3 linked regions of the Homo sapiens genome follow. The protein of the gene in region 1 purifies or fractionates together with the protein of each later gene. This does not show direct contact. Each region holds a gene or a part of one and is shown on either strand. Other genes may lie near its edges.

Region 1 (8,781 bases):
ATGTGAGAAGAAATAAACAAAGCATAGTATGTAAACGAGATGTTTCTGATGATCGTAGGTGGGTGACCTTTAAAATCAGGAGTATAACGAACAAGAAAGAACAGAGAGAAATAAATGAGATGATTATTTTTAGATGAATTGAACTGTGGATAGACATCAAAACAGGGAATAAGCAATTTTTGAATTAGACGCATTAAGCAGTAGGGAGCCAGTGAAGGGCAGTGACCTAGTCAGAGCAACAGATGACACAAATTTTTCTTACTATGGCATTTTATTAATAAATTGGTTATATAAGAAATAGGAAGCAGAGATTTAAAAAATGAAAGTTTTTTAATAGTGTAAGGGTTGTAATGCAAACCCTAAACAAAAAGGGGCCATAAATTAAAAGAAAGATACTTAAGTAACCTAAGCAACTTAAGTGGGATTCAGAGGGAGTGAACTAAGACAACAATATGATGTAATGCCTGGAAAACTGAGGTATTTTTAAAACTTTGCACTAAGTATATCGTCAAGTACTATGGCTTTTGAGTTTTTTGATTTGACCTATAGTAAGAAATGTATTTTACATCATGACCTAGTAAATAAATTGTGTATACACCTACACATATAACAAAATATTCGTAAATTATACCTTTATACGTAAGTTCCATGAAACAGTAGATGGAACTTATGTATATAGGTGATAGACTCTGATATTTTATATTGTTTCTTTTTTTTTTCCCTTCCCAAGATGGAGTCTCACTCTGTCGCCCAGGCTGGAGTGCAGTGGCGCGATCTCTGCTCACTGCAACCTCCGCCTCCCAGGTTCAAGCAATTCTCCCGCCTCAGTCTCCTGAGTAGCTGGGATTACAGGCACCCACCATCATACCCAGCTAATTTTTGTATTTTTGTAGAGACGGGGTTTCACCATGTTGGCCAGGCTGGTCTTGAACTCCTAACCTGAGGTGATCCACCCGCCTTGCCTCCCAAAGTGCCGTAATTACAGGTGTGAGCCACCGCACCCGGCCTATTGTTTCTTTTTTTAAAAAAAAATTCTGATTATTTCCTACTGAGTGATTTTTACAATTCATTGAGTCATGACACAGTTTGAAAAATCCTACCCAGGCTTAACGCAGTGTCTCAGTCCTGTAGTCCTAGCAATTGGGAAGGCCAAAGTGGGAGGATCACTTGAGTCCTGGAGTTCAAGACCAGCGTGAGCAACATAGTGAGACTTTGTCTCTGAAAAAATTAAAAAAAAAAAACTGCCCTGGAAAAGCCTTGGCACGTGTATACACAAATATATATATATATTTTATATATATATGTAAAATACATATATTTTAATATATGTATTTTATATATATATAATACATATATATATAATGCTTATTGTAACATTGTTTGTAATAATGAAAAATTATAAATAACTTTGCCTTATAGAGAATTTAAGTTGTATTGCATTCATTCAGTAGACTGTAATTCACCAGTTTAAAAACAAACTAGATCTGCATGTATTATATGGATAAATTTGAAAAACATAGTGTTGACCAAAGTTAACAAGTTGTAAAACAGTAGCTACATCTGAATTTTTAAAGACATGAAAAAGAAATACTATTTATGGTTATAAACATGAGGATAAATGCAAAAACATGCATGAGAATGAAAACACCAAATTTAGGTAGTGGTTACCTTTAGGGTAAGAGGGAGGAGAGTGGGATCAGAGACACACAGGTGGTGATTCTGCTGTTGCTGATTTTATTTCTTAAAGGGAAAGAAACCTGAAATCTGGCAAATAATATGTCAAGGCTAGCTGGAAGTATGTGGACATTATATTATACATCTTTTTTCATGTATAAACATGTAATAATAAATAATATATAAAAAGTAATAAATATAATAATAAAGTTTTTTAACTTTAAAAATAAAACACGCTTTAAAAGCAACTGCTACCTCCCCTCCCCCCCACTAATAAAATTCTAGTATGATAAAAATGAATACCCTGCTTTCATTGGAAATTTCTAGCTTACACTTTCTCTCTCACTCCGTTTCTCCTTTTCTGTCTCTCTCTACTCCTTCTCCCTCCCTCCCTCCCTCTCTCTCTCTGTCTATATCAATTTTGCTTTAAGAGGAAACTGGGAATTAAACAAACTGGGATCAATGATGTAATGTATCTTTAGTACTTTGGATTTTCTAAACAATTTCCTGTAGTTTCTGAGAGTTGTATTTTAATCACATTCATAGAAACTCAGTCAGTCTGGCCAATGGAGGAGAATAGTATAGTCCTGCTCTTTCAAATTATGTTAAGCAAAATGGCTTTCTTCTCTGGGAATGCACTGTACTCAAAGATATAAGGTATTAGACTAGAGGCTCCCTTAAGTTACGGCTAGTTCTAACGTTCTAAAGCTCTAACACAGAATCTTTCTTCTGTTGGATTGTTAGTTCTTTGAAACTAGACAGTGTGTTCTAAATACTAACCCTCATAATACCCTGAATAATACAGTTAGTATGTTAAAAATTAATTAAAAGAATGGTCATCACAACTTTGAATTCCATGGTACACTTTCCACAAATGCTTCTGTTTGTACCATGTTGATTAGTAATGTGACCCTTTCTTTCCCATGTTTAGTGATTTAGAATCTAGAAGAGAAGTAAAAAAAGAAGAAGGTGAAGCTTTTGCACGAGAACATGGACTCATCTTCATGGAAACGTCTGCTAAGACTGCTTCCAATGTAGAAGAGGTAAATAAGAGGCCCTTTAAAATCTTCATCTTTATACTTAATAGAAATGTTTTATATATCTTCATTTTACTTATTATTTAAGTTTTTAGTCGGATGGTCTTTGAACATCATAAAGTAGGAAAGTTTCTTCCCTTTGAAATCCCTTGTAACATTCACCTTCTGTCAGACTCTTAAATCATATTGAGCCTTCTAAAGCCTGAATGTTTTCTTACATTTTTGTACGTATTTTCACTCCCTCCCTTTTTCTAAACAATTTCCTATAGTTTCTGAGAGTTATATTTTAATCACATTCATAGAAAGTCAGTCTGGCCAATGGAGGAGAATAGTGTAGTCCTATTCTTTCAAATTATGTTGAGCAAAATGGCTTCTCTGGGAACCCACTGTACTCAAAGATATAAGGTATTGGACTTCTTCGTGTTGCATGGTAGGGAAATCTTTTTTGTGTTGCATGGGAGGGAAACAAGGAACCACACTAATGAAATTTGGAAATGTTTCAAGACAGCAGAACGTTTGTAGCTATTTATATCCACTTCTGCTTATTTTTTTAATTTTATTTATTTTTTTAACTGTCAATATATTACCACATCACCACTTCTGCTTAAAGTATTCTATTATTGCTGTGTAACATTTTACAAAGCATGAGAATTCTGTTTCATCTATTGATGAAATTTGTATTATTTCAGTTATTTCCATTGATGAACCTGAACTATTGGAACTTTTCTGAACACAGTGTATTCTTTTATGCTCTATGTGTTTGTGTTTGGAGGTAGTATGTATATACATATTATAAATAGATGATTACGTAGTTGATCCTTTCTAAGGTAAATGTATTACTATACTGTTATTTTATAAAAAGAGGTAATGAAGCTAAGAAAAGTAGTAGTTTATCCAAAGTAATACTTAGTTCCCGATTTCTAGATAAGAACAGCTTATAAGAGCAACTACAGAAAGTAGTTCTAAAAAACAAATGAGTTAAGAATCACTGCCGTAAGGATAACAGAGGTCAGGGTCCTGGGCAACAGCTAGCATGTGCCTTCAATGTAGTAAGCAGTCAGTAAATATTTATTAAGAATGATACTTGGAGCTCTTCTGATTAACCCTTGAACCTAAAAATTGACTACAGTAATTCTACAGCATTGGTATTTTCACCGAAGAATTCTTTCTTAGGTAAAATATTATACAGTCATGTGTTGCTTGACAAAGGAGATACATTCTGAGAAATATGTCACCAGGTGATTTCATCGTCACGTGACCATCATAGAGTGTACTTACATAAGCCTAGATGGCATAGCCTACTACTGCACCTACTACACACTTCCCTTAGTAGACCTTGGTGCCAGAGGAATGACACAGTGATGATTTCCCTTGGTTTTCTTTTTGCCACATACCCGAGACTGGGTGCTAGAGAAACAGGCAACCTAGAAAGGTCAACAGGCACAGAAAAAGAAAGTCTTCTAGCCAGAGAACCAGGAAATAGGCAGGTCAGAACAGTGTTCGCAAGCCAGAACACTCTTAGAAAGTAACCATTCTACTGTAGCCAAACATCACAGAAAAAATTGTGGCTCTGCTTCCACAATCCCCAGGCAGTAATGAAGTAGCACCCTACCACCACCATTTCCCTTGTTGGAGTGGAGTGAGAGGAAGCCAACTAAACAGTGGTTTAAATAAGACCCAGAGTCTCATAACATAGTATCTAAAATACCCATGTTTCAATAGAAAATCATTCATCATACCTAGAACCAGGAAGATCTTAAATTGAATGAAAAAAAGATAATAGGTGCCAACAGTGAAATGACAGTGGTGTTTGAATTATCTTACAAAGATTTTAATGCAGCAATCATTAAAATGCCTCAACAAACAAGGAACATGCTTGAAACAGAAGAGTCTTAGCAAACAAACAATCTGAGCAAAAGAAATGCAAGATAAAAAAAAGAACCAAATAGGAATTTTAAAATAAAAAAAAATACAATAATTGAAATTTTAAAACTCTTTCAAAGCTCTTTGTACACTAGAAAAAAAAACTTAGTGAATGGACTCAACAGCAGAATGGAGATAAAGGAAAGAAATAGTGAACTGGATGATAGAACAATAGTAACTACTTAGTCTAAACTGCAGAGAGAAAATTGAGGAAACAAATGAACACTACCTCAGGGACTTATAGGACTGTAACAAAAGCTGACGTTATATGATGCATCATAAGTCCTAGAAGGAGAGGAAAAAGGAATGGCTCTGAAAAATACTCAAAGAAATAATGGCTGAAAACTTCTTAAATGTGGCAAAAAGTATATAAACCTACAGATTGAAGACAGCCCCAAAGAGGTTAAACCCAGACAAATCCACATGATGACGAACCTCTGTATGGTCAAATTTCTGAACGTGAAAGACAGAAAAAAAAATCTTGAAAGCAGCAAAAAATAGCACCCTACGTATAGGGGAAAAACAGTTCTAATGATAGCAGATTTCTCATCAGAAACCATGGAGGACAGAGAAAATAGCACAGTGATTTTTGTTTGTTTGTTTGTTTTTATTATACTTTAAGTTCTAGGTTACATGTGCACAACGAGCAGGTTTGTTACCTAGGTATATATGTGCCATGTTGGTTTGCTGCACCCACCAAGTAATCATTTACATTGGGTATTTCTCCTAATGCTATCCCTCCCCCAGCCCTTCAACCCCCAACAGGCCCCGGTGTGTGATGTTCCCTGCCCTGTGTCCAAGTGTTCTCATTGTTCAGTTCCCACCTATGAGTGAGAACATGCGGTGTTTGGTTTTCTGTCCTTGTGATAGTTTGCTGAGAATTATGGTTTCCAGCTTCATCCATGTCTCTGCAAAGGACATGAACTCAACTTTTTTATGGCTGCATAGTATTCCATGGTGTATATGTGCCACATTTTCTTAATCCAGTCTACCATTGATGGACATTTGGGTTGGTTCCAAGTCTTTGCTATTGTGAATACTGCCACAATAAACATACGTAGCACAGTGTTTTGCAAGAGCAGAAAGAAAAGAACTATCAGCCCAGAATTCTTTACCCAGCAAAGAAAAAAAAGAATTAGCAATGAAGGTGCAATCAAGACATTCTTAGAGAAGGAAAAACCAAGAATTTATTAGTAGCAGATTTGCATAAAAGAATGGCTAAAGGAAGTTTTCTAATAGAAGTGAAATGATTGAAGAAAGAATCTTAGAACACCATAAAGGAAGAAAAAAACATAAGAAACAAAAATATGGATAAATATGATAGACTTTTTTCTTCAAGTCTTGCAAATTATGTTTGATGTTTGAAGTATAAACAAGTAACCACTGTCTGATGTGATTATCAGTGTATTCCACAATATTATAAGCCATGGGGAATAAAGGGATTTGATTAGCCCACAGGAAGGCAGGAGAAGGAAAATAGAAAACAAAGTAAAATGTCAGATGTAAGCCCTCATATATCAATAACTAAATGTTGGTGGTCAAAATACACAAATCAAAAGGGATTAGCAGAGAGAATTTTAAAAACAATGACTTAGCTATATGGTATTTATAAGAAACTCACTCCAAATACAACAGTACAGTTAGGTTGAAAATAAAATGATAGGAAAAGTTATACAAATATTAATCAAAGGAAAACAGGAGTAGCTATATTAATATCACATAAACTTAAGGGCAGAAAAAAATTATCAGAGTGGGACATTATATAATGATAAAAGAATCAGCCCTCCAGAAAGATGTGACAGTGCTAAACATGCGTGTACCAGATATGTGAAGCAAAAACTGATAGACTGCGAGGAGAAATAGAGAAATTCACAATTACGGTTGGAGACTTCAGCATCCCTTAGGTGCTCACAGAATATATACCAAGATAGACCGTGTCCTGGGCCATAAAATAAACCTCAATAGATTTTAAAGTATTGAAATCATACGGAATGTATTCTCCAAACAAAATGGAATTAAACTAGAAATCAGTTTAACAGAAAATAGGAAAATCTACAAATACTTGGAAACTAAACAGTACGCTTCTGTGTGTCAGTGAGCAAGTCTTGAATTACAAAAAACACATTGAACTGAATGAAAATACAACATACCAATTTGTGGAAAATAGCTAAAACAGTGTTACGAGAGGGAAATGTATATCATTAAATGCACACAATAGAAAAGAAGAAGTCTCTTCCTTATACGTTATACAAAAATTAACTCAAGATGGATTAGAGATTTAAACATAAGACCTAAAACCATAAAAACCCTGGAAGAAAACCTAGACAATACCATTCAGGACATAGGCATGGGCAAAGACTTCATGACTAAAACACCAAAAGCAATGGTAACAAAAGCCAAAATTGACAAATGGGATCTAATTAAACTGAAGAACTTCTGCACACCAAAAGAAACTATCATCAGAGTGAACAGGCAACCTACAGAATGGGAGAAAAATTTTGCAATCTATCCATCTGACAAAAGGGCTAATATCCAGAATCTACAAAGAACTTAAACAAATTTACAAGAAAAAAACAACCCCATCAAAAAGTGGGCGAAGGATATGAACAGACACTTTTCAAAAGAAGACATTTATGCGGCCAACAAACATATGAAAACTCATTATTACTGGTCATTAGAGAAATGCAAATCAAAACCACAATGAGATACCATCTCATGCCAGTTAGAATGGCAATCATTAAAAAGTGAGGAAACGGCCGGGCGCGGTGGCTCATGCCTGTAATCCCAGCACTTTGGGAGGCTGAGGTGGGCGGATCACAAGGTCAGGAGATGAGACCATCCTGGCTAACAGGGTGAAACCCCATCTGTATTAAAAATATAAAAAATTAGCCAGGCGTGGTGGCAGGCGCCTGTAGTCCCAGCTACTTGGGAGGCTGAGGCAGGAGAATGGCATGAACCCAGGAGGCGGAGCTTGCAGTGAGCCAAGATCACACCATTGCACTCCAGCCTCGGCGACAGAGTGAGACTCTGTCTCAAAAAAAATAAAAGTGAGGAAACAACAGATGGTGGAGAGGATGTAGAGAAATAGGAACACTTTTACATTGTTGGCGGGAGGGTAATTCAGTTCAACCATTGTGGAAGACAGTGTGGCAATTCCTCAAGGATCTAGAACCAGAATTACCATTTGACCCTGCAATCCCATTACTGAGTATATACCAAAAGTATTATAAATCATTCTATAAAGATACATGCACAGGTATGTTTATTGCAGCACTGTTCACAATAGCAAAGACTTGGAACCAACCCAAATGCCCATCAGTGATAGACTGGATAAAGAAAATGTGGCACATATACACCATGGAATACTATGCAGCCATAAAAAGGGATGAGTTCATGTCCTTTGCAGGGGACTTGGGTGAAGCTGGAAACCATCATTCTCAGCAAACTAACACAGAAATAGAAAACCAAACACCGCATGTTCTCACTCATAAGTGGGAGTTGAATAATGAGAACACATGGACACAGGGCGGGTAACATCACACACCAGGGCCTGTTGGGGGGTGGGGGCCTAGGGGAAGGATAGCATTAGGAGAAATACCTAATGTGGATGATGGATTGATGGGTGCAGCAAACCACCATGGCACGTATATACCTATGTAACAAATCTGCACATGTATCCCAGAACTTAAAGTATAATTTAAAAAAACAAAAGAAAAGAAGTCTCAAAATAATTTTAACTCCTACTTCAAGAACCCAAAGCAAAATAAACCATAAAAAAGAAAAACCCAAAATAAATAGAAAGGAGGGAATATTAAAGATAAGAGCAGAGATTAATTAAGTTGAAAACAAAAATCAGTGAAACAAAGAGCTGGATTTTTTAAAAACTTCAGTAAAATTGGCAGACCTCTAGCAAAACTGACAGAAAAGGTGCAAGTTACCAATTATCAGTAACAAAACAGAAGCTATCACTACAGATTCTCCAGACATAAAAGAGGTAATTAGGGAATGCTGTGAATAGCTTTACCCACATAAATGTGACAACTTAGATGACTAATAGACCAGTTTATCCAAAAACACAAATTGCTACACCCAGCCAGTATGAAAAAGTTAATTTGAGCCTGGGCAACATGGTGAAACCCTGTCTCTA
Region 2 (7,891 bases), on another chromosome or scaffold:
CGGAGAAAGAACTGCAGTCCAAGAGCTCTTTTTTCCTATGTGATTAATAATCTGATTCAAAAAATATAATTTGACACTACTAACTGCAATGTAGTTTAGTGACTCTTAGCTAGGATTATAATGGTTGCTAATGACAGAAAGTTATATTAGCTTTGTTTTTGTTAAAAAGTTATATTCCTGTAACAGGGAAGTCTAAGGTGTGGACTGGCTTAAGGCCTGAAGAGAATCAGGGATTTGCTGGTTCTCCAGCCCTGCTTGCCTCCAAATTGGCTTCTTTCTCAGCCAGGCTCTCAGAAGCTGGCAGCAAAGATGGCTCCCAGTGCTCCATAACTCTCCCTCAGCAGCCCCATAAATCCCTTCAAATGATTCTCATTGACCCTGCTTGGGTCACATGTCTATGCCCATGCCAGCCACTGAGCAAGAATCATATGGTATAGGAGACATACAGTTTCTTAATGGAAGAAGGGACACTGAGTCAAAACATGCCTACCAGAAAGATGCAACCTTATTGAAACAAAAATAAACTGTTACTTAGTCAATAGAAATTAATCGTTATTTTCCTTGTTTGTCCAAATGCAGTGCCAATTCATTCATTAATTCTGCAGCCAAGCAAGAAGCAATGTTTTATCATTATTTATTTATTTATCTACCTGCGCATTCATGTATTCATTCATTCATTTTGCTAGCCACTGTGAAATTTCATGTCATATTTCTTCTCACCTTCAGCCAGCTCTATCTGTACACAGACTCCTTTTTCTGATGTCTTTAAAGCAAGTTGTACTCCATGGGAAGGGTGGGCATTTTGTCCCCCAGGGAACATTTTTAGTCATCACAACTTGGAGGCTATGCTACTGGCGTGGATAATGCTAAACTACAACGCACAGGATGGTCCCTGTTCACAGAGAACGACCTCACCCAATCTGTCCATAGTCTAGAGATTAAGAATTCTTGCTTTGGGGCATCTTCATCAGTTGGAAGCTGAAATCCATTCACTGGGCCAAAGGAATGAGATCCAATTTGAAGCAGTGACTATCTGGCTAAGATTCCGTGAGAATTAAAGCTGGGTGATCCACAGTTAACTGGCACATCAAATTCCTTTCTTTCTTCGGATTGATTTCCCTAAATAACCACCCCGTTGCTTCTTGTTAGCAAGTGCCCATGTTGTTGGTGGGTGTTTCTCTGTTTCTGTCTTTATACACAAGACTCTATTTTCAAGAACATTTTCGGTTCTCTACCTCCCCCAACCCCCCTACCCACCCCATACCTATTTTCTCTTTTCACAGCCACTAAAAAAAAGTTCTAAAAAGTATACAACTCTCAGAACATCAATATTTAATGGGAAGTGGGACTAATTTGAAAGTATCAGCATTTTAAGGCCATTTTGGCAAGGCGTGTTTCAATAGTACATTATGGTTATTTATCACAAATCAAACGCAGTACGTTGCTTGAAGACAGATTATTTTTCAAACTAATTATGATAGTCTTATTTCCTGCTGTTTTATGTTCCTTTTATGTGTAAGTTTCCCCTCTGAAATGTATTCTTCTTTTGTTTAATTCTGTGACACATTCTTCTGTTAAAATTCTAGGGTCAGAGGCCTCTAACTGCCAGTCATGTTTTCTATCGAGATTGTTGAATTAGCAGCTCACAGAATCTCACGCCACTAAACAAAACAACAAAACACCCTATGCATATAAGTACCACAGCTTTCTTTGATATTCGTTCAGAAGGAAAATACATTTGTATAATCTATCAAGCATGTAACAATGTGCTTTTGATGGTGAAAATTGTTTTATAAATATTAATAGGTATGTTTCTTTCACCCACTTTGTATAAAAAATGGCCTTTGTTCAAGATGAATTTTCTTTAGAATTGAGTTTCATTAATGTGACGTTGACAATCTTAAGGTCCGGACCAAGCTCAGCACCTCTGAAAATGCATTTTGTATTGTTTGTTGTTTTATTAAATGAGAAAGCTAAGGGTTTAAGCAGGCAAGTTTATTTTATCGCCCTGCTGTTGACATAGACATCAATCCATTTTTAACACGTCAATTCAAGAAGTGCATTTAGAAGCGTCTTACAGGAGGAAATAAGCATGTAAGAGTCAGTTAGTATTCCAGGATTAATCTACTCCTTTTGCGTAGCCACAGGTTTTTATTTATTTTCTTTGTTATTTTACTTTTTTTTTGGTTTTCATGTTAATGGAATGCACTTTTTCTAAGTTTCTCCTTCACTATAAAATATGACACCTGTGTATCTATCACTTGGTTCACACAAGTGGATACAAGTGTGAGAACTGTGACTTAGCAGGGATTGGCAAACTTTTTCTGTCAAGGACCAGTTAGTAAATATTTGGGGGTTTGCGGGCCATACAGTCTGTATTGCAACTACTCACCTCTGCTTTTGTCTTGGGAAGGCAGCCATAGGCAATATGAACGAGGCTATGTTCCAATCTGTTATTCATAAAAATAGGGCTGGCTTGAGGGTCTTAGTTGCTACCCTTTGCTTAGATCTTCATTTGGAGCTATTCTGTACCAATCTTTAGCCTTGGCCTTATGCACAGGTGTGATGTGATTTGAGAGTCACCAACAGCCTATTTTACCCTTATCTTTTAGCCAAAAATCTTGTTTTCTACTATTTATGATGCCTAAAATGCCAACTATTAATATTCTTCCTTTGGGAAAATTCTTATTCATTCAGAAGATGGCTTTTTATTGAAAACCATGGGTAACCTGTACATATGTAAACTATGGGAGACATTTGCTTAGATTTGCTCTAAACAGAAATCTCAGATTATAAAGGAACAGATAATTTTTATTGTTAGGAAGAGAGGAGAGTTCTGTAGCCTGGGCTACAATAATGGGAAGCTCTTAAGTATAAAAAAGCATGTGCATATTAGAGGGTGGTGTGGTCGTCTAACAACCTGCTAGTACCCACTGTCTAGGAAGCTAAGCGCTTTGCATACAATCTCTCCTGCCACCAACACCTAGAGTAGAACATACTCTGATCCCCATTGTATAGACAAGGCTCGGGTTTAAGAGAGGTTAATGTGCTTAAGGATAGCTGGCTAGGAAGTGCCAGGAGTTGTCATTTATACCCTGATATTTTTGATGCCAGTCTATATTAAGTGGTCAGGTTCAAGGAAAATCATTTAGATGGCACAACATTGTAGATAGTAAGATAGGAAAGCACTTTGTTTGTTTGGTACTATGTATAATAGGGAAAAACAAACATTTTTCTCCTACCAAACTCTCAACACAGAAGAACACTTCTTGGACCAGATGTGTGAGTTTTTCCAACACTGACTAATCTCTGACACTAGCTAGGTATCCTATGATTCAATTCAATTCTTTTACCATCTACCTGGAATTAGAGTCAGATCCCATAGGTTAAGGGGTCAGTCTTATCAGACTGACTCCACTTTGGATGTCATTTGTAAGACCAAGCCTCTGGTACTTCTGATGAACCAGCTGTAAATTGGGGGTTCTTAGGACTCCCTCCTTGTGCCCCATCATTTACTAGAATGGCTCTCAGAACCCAGGGAAGCACTTTACTTACTACTGCTGATTTATTATAAAGGTTATTTTATTTTTTATCTTATTTTTTTATAAAGGATATTTTAAATGATACAAAGGAATAGCCAGATGAAGAGGTATATGGGGCAGGGTATGCATGAAGGGGTGACAAGCTTCCCTGTACTCCACAGGTGAGCCACCCTGTAGCACCTCCCTGTGTTTGGCAACCTGTAAGCTCTCCAGTCCCCTGGAGTTGAGAAATTTTTATGGAGGCTTTATTACATAGGGATGATCTGTTATTCTTTCTGGAGCATGGAGGTGGGGCTGAAATTTCCAAGCTTCTAATCATAGTTTGGTCTTTCTGGCGACCAGCCCCATACAGAAGCCTCCACCAAGACTTACCTTAATAGAACAAAAGACTCTCCTATCTCCCAGAAAATCCCAAGGGATTAGGAGCTCTGCATCAGGAATCAGGGTCAAAGGCCAAATGTTAGAACACAAGATTCTCCTAGCACCCCTATTGCTTAGGAAATCACAAGGGTTTTAGAGCTCTATGCTAGGAATTAGGGATGAAGACCAAAATAATATATTTATTATAAATCACAGTATCACAGACTACTTTTAAAATATAAAACAGGCGTAACAAATATGTGTCTGAAAGAATCCCTTTACATCCTTAAAGTTTTTCTTCCCTTACCCACTAAGTAAAGACTGGGGTCTTGAAGGTGGCAGTTCAATTTGAATCCCCTTTCTTAAGTCCTAAGTCCTCTAAATAAATTACTTCATATTTAGGTAGTGTTTTTAACTTCCCAAAACACTTAGACATACATGCAATGATCCAATTAGGTTGTTTAGTTTTCTCTACAAATTAACAGTCGGCACAGGACCGTTGTAGATATACACCCCTTTTATCCCATAGTCACCATCTTGAAGCTCTGGGTTAACTGCAAAGTTCTGTCAAGATTGTTCCCTGGAGAGAACGTCATACCACAGAAAAACATCCTCTGAAAATCTAGCTTTGCAGGCATTTAGTTGGGATTGCCTTTTGAACTTTGAATACATACCCATTAATTATTCTCTCTCTGAAGCAGCTTGTAACTGTAGTCTTTGTAAGGAGCAAAGGTCAGCTTGAAACTATTTTGATTTACTTGTTTATTGATCTCAACCAAGAATTCCTTTATTTGAAACTCTTCCCTTAGGAAGTCAATTTGATAACCTTAGCCCATTCATTTTGAAGGTGTCAGTTATAAGTAGTCTTGCCAATGAGTAATGGAGGAGCTAAAATTACTAATAAATTAATTAGAATGCATTTATAAACCTAGTGGAAAGCCATGTACGAAGTTGCTTTTTTATTGATTATTATACCAGTCATTAACTGCTGAGAAAATTCCCCTGTAGCAAGCAGAGAACATTGGCCAATTCGTTTGGTAATTGTAGGATTCTGTCAATAAGCTTTCAATATTTTGGAAAGTAATTACTCATTCACTCCAACCATTCACAATGTGTGGACAAAGTGGTTGGGCATTTTGGGGCAAGACTAAGGATTTAAGCAGACATTAACTTCCATATAAGATTCTCTCTTGTCGCTCAGTGCTACTTTAAGTCATGTGCGGTCTATATATATACTTATAACAAGTATTCTTAGATGTTAATATGCTGGTCTACACAGATTTGTATCAAAGTGCTTGAATATTGTGGTAGGGAAACCCTTGGAGAAAACCCTCTACCTGGGGTCTCTAACGCCAAGATGCCATATACAGCCATGTTTTATTTTCATAAGAAGCAAGTATAATTAGGAGATTATAGCCACTGCTTTTCAGTGAGTGAGAAATGTTCTGTGGCTGTTTCCCTTTCAAGAGTCAGGTGCCTGTCAGCAATGCTGGAGGAGAATAGGTAGTATCTGTAAATTATTGTTCAAAGATTCCTGGCTATCAATATCCCAAGTTAAGTAAAAGAACATTGGCCAGGTGCAGTGGCTCACACCTGTAATCCCAGCACTTTGGGAGGCTGAGGTGGGCAGATCACAAGGTCAGGAGATCGAGACCATCCTGGCTAACACGGTGAAACCCCATCTGTACTAAAAATACAAAAAATTACCTGGGCATGGTGGCACATGCCTGTAGTCCCAGCTGCTTGGGAGACTGAGGCAGGAGAATCGCTTGAACCTGGGAGGTGGAGGTTATAGTGAGCCGAGATTGCGCCACTGCACTCCAGCCTGGGCAGCAGAGTGAGACTCTGTCTCCGAAATAAATAAATAAATAAATAAATAAACAAACAAACAAACATTATGATGACATGGCATCACAGAACACTAATTTCTACACTAAGAGAGATAATAAAAGGGGTCAGATACCCAGATACCAATAATGCCACCCTCTCCACTGCAGTCTCTCCCTGATTGTATGTATAGGAGATCTGTAAATCAAGGAAAGTGCCCTGTAGTCTGTCTCCTATTATGGAATGAGTTTTGCTGGGTCCAGGAGATTTCCACCAGCTCCAGAAACTAGAGACAATTGTGCTAATAATGCCTGGCATCCTGGCTTTGTGACTGACCAGTCTTGGTCTTTTCGTGTCTTATAACTTGAATCTGAAGCACCATAAGATGGTCCTGCACGAATCAAGGGCATGGCCCTTGTTTTAAGGATTGTTATTGCCATTTTTTCCAATTAAAAAACCAAGGCCCAGAGAAGAACTAGGTTATTTTATCAAGGTTACAGAGTTAGTAATGTATGCTGGAAATTGCTAAAAGTATATATTTTAAGTGCTCTCCCACACCAAAAAGAAAAACCAAAAACTATATGAGAAGATGGATGTGTTAATTTGCTTCAGTGTAGTAATCATTTCACTGTGTTTAATTATTTCACTGTGTTATATGTATATCAAAACATGATGTTGTATGCTTTAAATACACAGTTGTCCCTCAATATATGCAGGGAATCGGTTCCAGGAATCTCAGATATACCAAACTTCGTTCATATTGCACAATTCCTGCAGTTGGCCTTGCAGAACCCATGTATGTGAAAAGTCGACCCTCTGGGGCTTTACATCTTGAGAATAAAAATCCAGCTATAAGTGGACCCTCACAGTTCAAACCCATGTTGTTCAAGACTCAAGTGTATACAATTTTTATTTTTAATAAATGTTACAGAGTTAGTTAAGGATCAAATAAAAATCGAGCGATTCTAGTCTGGCATTCTTTCCACTAAATCTTTTGGAAATACTAGACAGGATACTGATTCAATAAAAATTTCACTTTACCATATCAAGAAAAGGACAATAGGGGACAAAATAATTAATAATATTGTCTAGTCTCTCTTTACATAGAAGAGAAAGGTGATAATTAGTGGTTAAATACTAAAAATATATAATAAAAATAATGAATCAAAGCTGTATCTATGAAGCTGTGCCAGTCTGTAACTTTTAATGGTTGATGGCAACTTTTGGGGTTATTCTATTGAAATGAGAACAACAGGTAGAAATTACTATGTTCTTTACTAGAACGTAAGTCCCTTGACAACAGGGACCAAACCCTAAAATTTAAAGGTCAAGAAAGCCAAAGCAGCCTCTCCTGCCTGTAACATGTGAAAAAAAATGACAGTACTTAACTTTCCCTTCGCTTGTGCCTACCAGCCTGAAGAACTTAATTTATAGATCCTCAAGAGATATTCAAGTATGATTGTTTTCTTCTTTATTTAGTTGTCTGTTTTGATGCCAAGATAAACTTTGATGACAACGCAGAATTCCGACAAAAAGACATATTTGCTATGGACGACAAATCAGAGAATGAGCCCATTGAAAATGAAGCTGCCAAATATGATCTAAAATACATAGGACTAGATGGGAACATTGCCTGCTTTGGTAAGAAGCAGTTATATCAAAAGAATGCTTTGTGGATTCTTATAGAATTTAGGAAACCTTGATTTCTGAAATGTCACTTACCAAGAAGAAGTAAGCACATAAGTTTTTTTGTAGCTGAAAAGTCTTAGGAAAGTATCCAAGTTTCTTCTCAAAGTTGTTTTGATTAATGGTCACTGGTGTAAAGCAGAATTTCTCAACTCTGGCACTATTGGGAGTTTGGGTGGGATAATTCTTTACTGTCCTGTACATCATAAGATGTTTAGCATCCTAACCTCTAGATACTACTAACAACCCCCACTTGTGAAGACAAATAAACCCATGTAAATCAATAAATTAAAATAAATGTCTTCAGACAGTTCCAAATGGCTGTGGTATGCAAAAATCACCCCAACTGAGAAATATTGACTTAAAACATCTCAGTTAAACTTTGCTTAGTAAAAAATTAGAACCTTTGCTGCTCAACTCAGTATTAATATGCAGAACTCTTCTGAAATTTAGGTTTAAAACAAAATTCCTTTATC
Region 3 (5,449 bases), about 18 Mb from region 1:
ATTGGAATAGGGTTATTAAGAACTAATTTCATTTTTTCAGTATTGTCCTTCAAAAAAGCATGCTTCTCTCCATGATAGGTTAATAATGTATATTGGGGATTAATTCTTTGTGGCATTTGGCATTTGGAAACATTTAAAGAGATTTGGCTTCTTGTACGTCTGTATACATACACCTTCAGATTATTAATTTGGCACTGAAATATCTTATTCATTCTTTTTTTTTCTTTTGAGACGAGTCTCGCTCTGTCGCCAGGCTGGAGTACAGTGGCATGATCTTGGCTCACTGCAACCTCTGCCTCCCAGGTTCAAGTGATTCTCCTGCCTCAGCCTCCCAAGTAGCTGGGACTACAGGCGTGTGCCACCACGCCCAGCTAATTTTTGTATTTTTAGTAGAAACGGGGTTTCACCATGTTGGCCAGGATGGTCTCAATCTCCTGGCCTCGTCATCCGCCCACCTTGGCCTCCCAAAGTGCTGGGATTACAGGTGTGAGCCACCACACCCAGCCTCTTATTCATTCTTATACTTTTGTTCATGCTTTTATGAAATAAATCATGAAGTATCCTATCATTTGAACTTATAATGAGTAATAGATGATAGTAGTCTATACATGTCTAATCCTAACAAAATTATATTTGTAGAACTAGGTCATTTGAAATGTTTTTACTATATATGTGGCATGTACCAAAATAATATTTACATTGGGAGATGAGAGAGAGGATCTTACTCTAAAAATTCCTAGACAGTAGTAAGAACTCATGTTGTTTTCATCATTTGCTTTTGTTTGTTTGTTTATTGCAGAAAGAAGAGTGGGAAATTGAAGGCCTCCTATAAACGGGATTGTTTTAGTGTTGGCAGTAATGTTGATATAGATTTTTCTGGACCAACCATCTATGGCTGGGCTGTGTTGGCCTTCGAAGGGTGGCTTGCTGGCTATCAGATGAGTTTTGACACAGCCAAATCCAAACTGTCACAGAATAATTTCGCCCTGGGTTACAAGGCTGCGGACTTCCAGCTGCACACACATGTGTGAGTGTTTATAATTTATTCCTTAGTATCAGTGCAGTTGCCCAAAATATTGTAGCCATTAGCATGCTGAGAAGTGATGGTACTCAGATTTAGCATGCCTTGGTGAATATCCATCCTTGCGGTGCTATCCTCATAGCAAAACCTTGCCAGGAGGCTGGTGCACGTGGTGTGCAGGCTGTGCTGCTGGTGGTCACTGGCCCCTCAGCCTGCACCCCAAACTTGAGGAAGCTCCAGCCTCTGTAGAAGAACCACTGGGATAGAGGGAGCCCAGAGCATGGCTTACCTCATGGTAAGATGACCCTTTGGAGATGTTACTGCTTCCTCTGCTGCCCTCTCATCTTGACAGTATCTGGAAGCAGGTCTGTTTTGGTCACCAACAACCACCACCAAATTGATCTGAGCATCCTGGGACATCCCGGTAATTCTGTGGAGGTTTCAGGTACTGGTATTCTCGGTTGGAACCCAGGTACCGCTAATGCATTCAGAAGTAACAGGTGCTCTGAAAGAGTCCTGGGATTCAGTTATGTAGGCTGCACCATGTTGGTGGGATGAATCAGAACTTTTACGTAGTATTTTATGTTGAGCCTACTGGACACTGCTACTATACCAGGAAGAAAAAGCAAAGGGCAAACTATGTGTTTTTAAACTGTTGCAGATTCCTCTCTGCTAGATGCTCTAATTTACTTATGATGGCTAAAACAAAGGCAAGCAGTGGTATAGACAGTTACTGAAATTGATGAAACAGTATTATCAGGAAAACCATGTGAAAACCCAAGGACTCACCTCTGGCATGCTTGGAAGCAATAACTAAGGTGGTTTTCTGGAGCAGTGCACCCTAGGTATCGTAGGAGGGTGCTTTCTAACTGTAGGATTGTGTTTTAAAGGAAATCCAGAATTGGTTTTATTCCTATACCTCTACCTTTTTATTTTTTTGCAGAATCTTTATTGAACTCTACTTTGAAGTTTCTAAGTTCTATGAACTTCTCAGAGACCTATAGATTATACTTACCCGAGGTGTCTGCCTTTGTGCTTAATTGAATTGTCTTAAGAAACTCACATCATGTGGAGGAGCCAAGTAAATGGATCAAGTGTTAACGTTTTAATTAAGCAGTCATTACTGGCATAGCTGGATTTAGTTCTGTGTTTTGTTTAGTAGTCATTTATGCTAGAAATTTGCTGAAATCTATAGTTACAAAATGGGATCCTTGTTTAGATAGTCTTAGAATTTGTTTTCATACCATAATAACAATGGTACAAACTAGATATTTATGACGTTTTCTTATCTATGAAAACAGGAACGATGGCACTGAATTTGGAGGTTCTATCTACCAGAAGGTGAATGAGAAGATTGAAACATCCATAAACCTTGCTTGGACAGCTGGGAGTAACAACACCCGTTTTGGCATTGCTGCTAAGTACATGCTGGATTGTAGAACTTCTCTCTCTGTAAGAATGTGCTGCCAGATTGGATCTGCTCTTATGTTTGTGTCTAAGTTTTCAGAGAATGTTGTGATATGAGTGTAGTTTGCTTGTTCTTTATTAATTTTAATAAGCCAGCTCATTGTGTAGTGAAAGGAATATAATGTGGCCAGGCTCACGCCTGTATTCCCAGCACTTTGGGAGGCCAAGGTGCATGAATCACCTGAGGTCAGGAGTTCAAGACCAGCCTAGCCAACAAGGTGAAACCCTGTCTTTACTAAAAATACAAAAATTAGGTGGGCGTGGTAGGTGACGCCTGTAGTCCCAGCTACTAGGGAGGCTGAGGCAGGAGAATTGCTTGAACCCTGCAGATGGAGAGGTTGCAGTGAGCCAAGATCACACCATTGCACTCCAGCCTGGGTGACAGAGCGAGAGCCTATCTCAAAAAAAAAAAAAAAAAAAATTATGCTTGACGTCAGGAAATAGGGGTTCTTCTAGTCCTAGCTCTTCCTGTATATCTGTTGTCTGACCTTGTCATTTTATCACTTTGGCCTCAGAATTTTCTTATTTGGAAATTCATGGGATTAGATGACTATTTCTGTTGCTATAGTAACTCTTACTAAAAATAACACTGAGCTGTTAAATTTCATGTACTGTGCTAAGGGCTTTATGTATATTATGTCATTTAACGCTCACAACCACTCCATGTGGCGATTAGTGTTATCCTCATCCCTGTTTTACAGATGAGAAAACTGAGCCTTAGAAAGGTCAGCTAACTTGCCTAAGGTCACATAGTAACTGGCAGTGCCACAATTGAACCTAGGTCTGTTTTTCTGTCACCCAAGTTCATGCCGTAACCACTGTGAGAGATTGTCAGCTGGTATCTCAGAGAATTCAGGGTGTTTGGTTGTGTAGTGTTTAAAAATTTTGCTTGAGGCCTTGAAGCATGCATTCTCAGGGTACGTCCTACCCCTACAAGTCCTACTGACTTCTTAATCAGTAATTCCGGCTGGGCACGGTGGGTCACGCCTGTAATCCCAGCACTTTGGGAGGCTGAGGCAGGGGATCACCTGAGGTCAGGAGTTTGAGACCAGCCTGGCCAACATGGTGAAACCCCGTCTCTACTAAAAATACAAAATTAGCCGGGCATGGGGGCGCATGCCTGTAATCCCAGCTACTTGGGAGGCTGAGGCAGGAGAATGGCTTGGACCCGGGAAGCGGAGGTTGCAGTGAGCCGAGATCGTGCCATCGCACTGCAGCCTGGGTGACAAGAACAAAACTTCATCTCAAAAAAAAAAAAAAAAAAAATCAGTAATTCTAGATTGGCCCTAGGGTGCTTTTAGCATTGGAAACCTAATGCACAAAGTGATGGTTATATTGGACTGATCTGTAATTCACTGTTTTCTGTTATTATTCTATCTCTTAATCTTAGGCTAAAGTAAATAATGCCAGCCTGATTGGACTGGGTTATACTCAGACCCTTCGACCAGGTAAGTAAAGGAATTAGTAACAGAGGGGTTGAGGTGGAAGGTGATAGAGAAAACAATGAAAATAACCTGCAGAACAACCTGTAGTCACTGTAAGTTGATTTGGACCATTTTGTAACATTTGGTTGTTCAGACAGAAAACAATACAGATCAAATACTTTTGCATTAAAAAAGTATGTATTTCTGACTATAATGTGGTCACTTTGGCCTTTGAGTTTGGTTGATCACTCATTGCCCTTAACCCTGAACTTCAGAGAAAGTTTGCCATGATCATGCTTTCCTCATTACACATCAGATAGTTATAAATAACCGATTGAGTAATAGCTGTTTGCTTATAGCTCGTATACCCAGCTACAATCCACACCATTGATTCCATCTGTTGTTTCTAGAAAGTTCAGATCTAATTGTAATACTTGTTTCAAGTGATTGTGGTGTTTTCTTCTTCCTAGGAGTCAAATTGACTTTATCAGCTTTAATCGATGGGAAGAACTTCAGTGCAGGAGGTCACAAGGTTGGCTTGGGATTTGAACTGGAAGCTTAATGTGGTTTGAGGAAAGCATCAGATTTGTCCCTGGAAGTGAAGAGAAATGAACCCACTATGTTTTGGCCTTAAAATTCTTCTGTGAAATTTCAAAAGTGTGAACTTTTTATTCTTCCAAAGAATTGTAATCCTCCCCACACTGAAGTCTAGGGGTTGCGAATCCCTCCTGAGGGAGATGCTTGAAGGCATGCCTGGAAGTTGTCATGTTTGTGCCACGTTTCAGTTCAGTTCTGAAGTGTTATTAAATGTGTTCCTCAGCGACAGTGTAGCGTCATGTTAGAGGAGACGATCTGACCCACCAGTTTGTACATCACGTCCTGCATGTCCCACACCATTTTTTCATGACCTTGTAATATACTGGTCTCTGTGCTATAGTGGAATCTTTGGTTTTGCATCATAGTAAAATAAAATAAACCCATCACATTTGGAACATAACTGCTCATGTGACTTGCTGGTGATGGTTTTCTTACCTTGATGTGATTTGTTTTAAGAAGCACTTTCACAGGCGAGATTTGTGTCTAAAGTATCAGGGCTGCCGTCTGTCCCTTTCACTTCACTGACCCCTGCTCTTCTCTTGCTCTCACAGGGCAGGCTGAGGAAGGAAGCAGTGAACATGGTTGTGCTGGGGAGTGGCACATCTGTTGTGCTTGTGGTGTGACAGGGTTGCTTCACCCCGGGAGTTGTGTGCAGCTGCTGAGAAAGTGTGGATGTGAGCGGGTGAAAAGACAGTTGAGGGACGAGTGCATTTGGGGAAGCATGGGGAGGAGAGACGGTGGGAGGAGGCCAGAGCTGGGTGGACACTTCTGGGACTCCTCCTGGGCTTCAGAAACATGATTTTTGATTACTAGTATAGAAAAATGATAACCAAGGAATGAAGTACCAGTTTAGAGAAGAAATGAGCAGACTATAAAATCCTCAGGGCTCACTGGTAAATCATCTTCCTAAAAGTAGAACTCCTTTTGAAAATCTTTTTTT

Evidence for each region.
Region 2: the proteins of RAB2A (region 1) and SUCLG2 purify together in Homo sapiens (affinity purification with mass spectrometry; 2 studies listed by BioGRID, with this or other methods). This does not show direct contact.
Region 3: the proteins of RAB2A (region 1) and VDAC3 purify together in Homo sapiens (affinity purification with mass spectrometry; 2 studies listed by BioGRID and IntAct, with this or other methods). This does not show direct contact.

What each region holds. Positions count from the first base shown.
Region 1 is NC_000008.11:60,589,253-60,598,033, forward strand, and holds part of RAB2A (ras-related protein Rab-2A), read left to right. Parts: intron 1-2,605; coding exon 2,606-2,717; intron 2,718-8,781.
Region 2 is NC_000003.12:67,497,613-67,505,503, reverse strand, and holds part of SUCLG2 (succinate--CoA ligase [GDP-forming] subunit beta, mitochondrial isoform 2 precursor), read left to right. Parts: intron 1-7,208; coding exon 7,209-7,370; intron 7,371-7,891. UniProt on the Homo sapiens protein: GTP-specific succinyl-CoA synthetase functions in the citric acid cycle (TCA), coupling the hydrolysis of succinyl-CoA to the synthesis of GTP and thus represents the only step of substrate-level phosphorylation in the TCA.
Region 3 is NC_000008.11:42,400,989-42,406,437, forward strand, and holds the end of VDAC3 (non-selective voltage-gated ion channel VDAC3), read left to right. Parts: intron 1-799; coding exon 800-1,027; intron 1,028-1,964; exon of another isoform or gene 1,965-2,102; intron 2,103-2,322; coding exon 2,323-2,473; intron 2,474-3,878; coding exon 3,879-3,936; coding exon of another isoform or gene 3,937-3,940; intron 3,941-4,382; coding exon 4,383-4,474; 3' UTR 4,475-4,949; downstream 4,950-5,449. UniProt on the Homo sapiens protein: Non-selective voltage-gated ion channel that mediates the transport of anions and cations through the mitochondrion outer membrane and plasma membrane.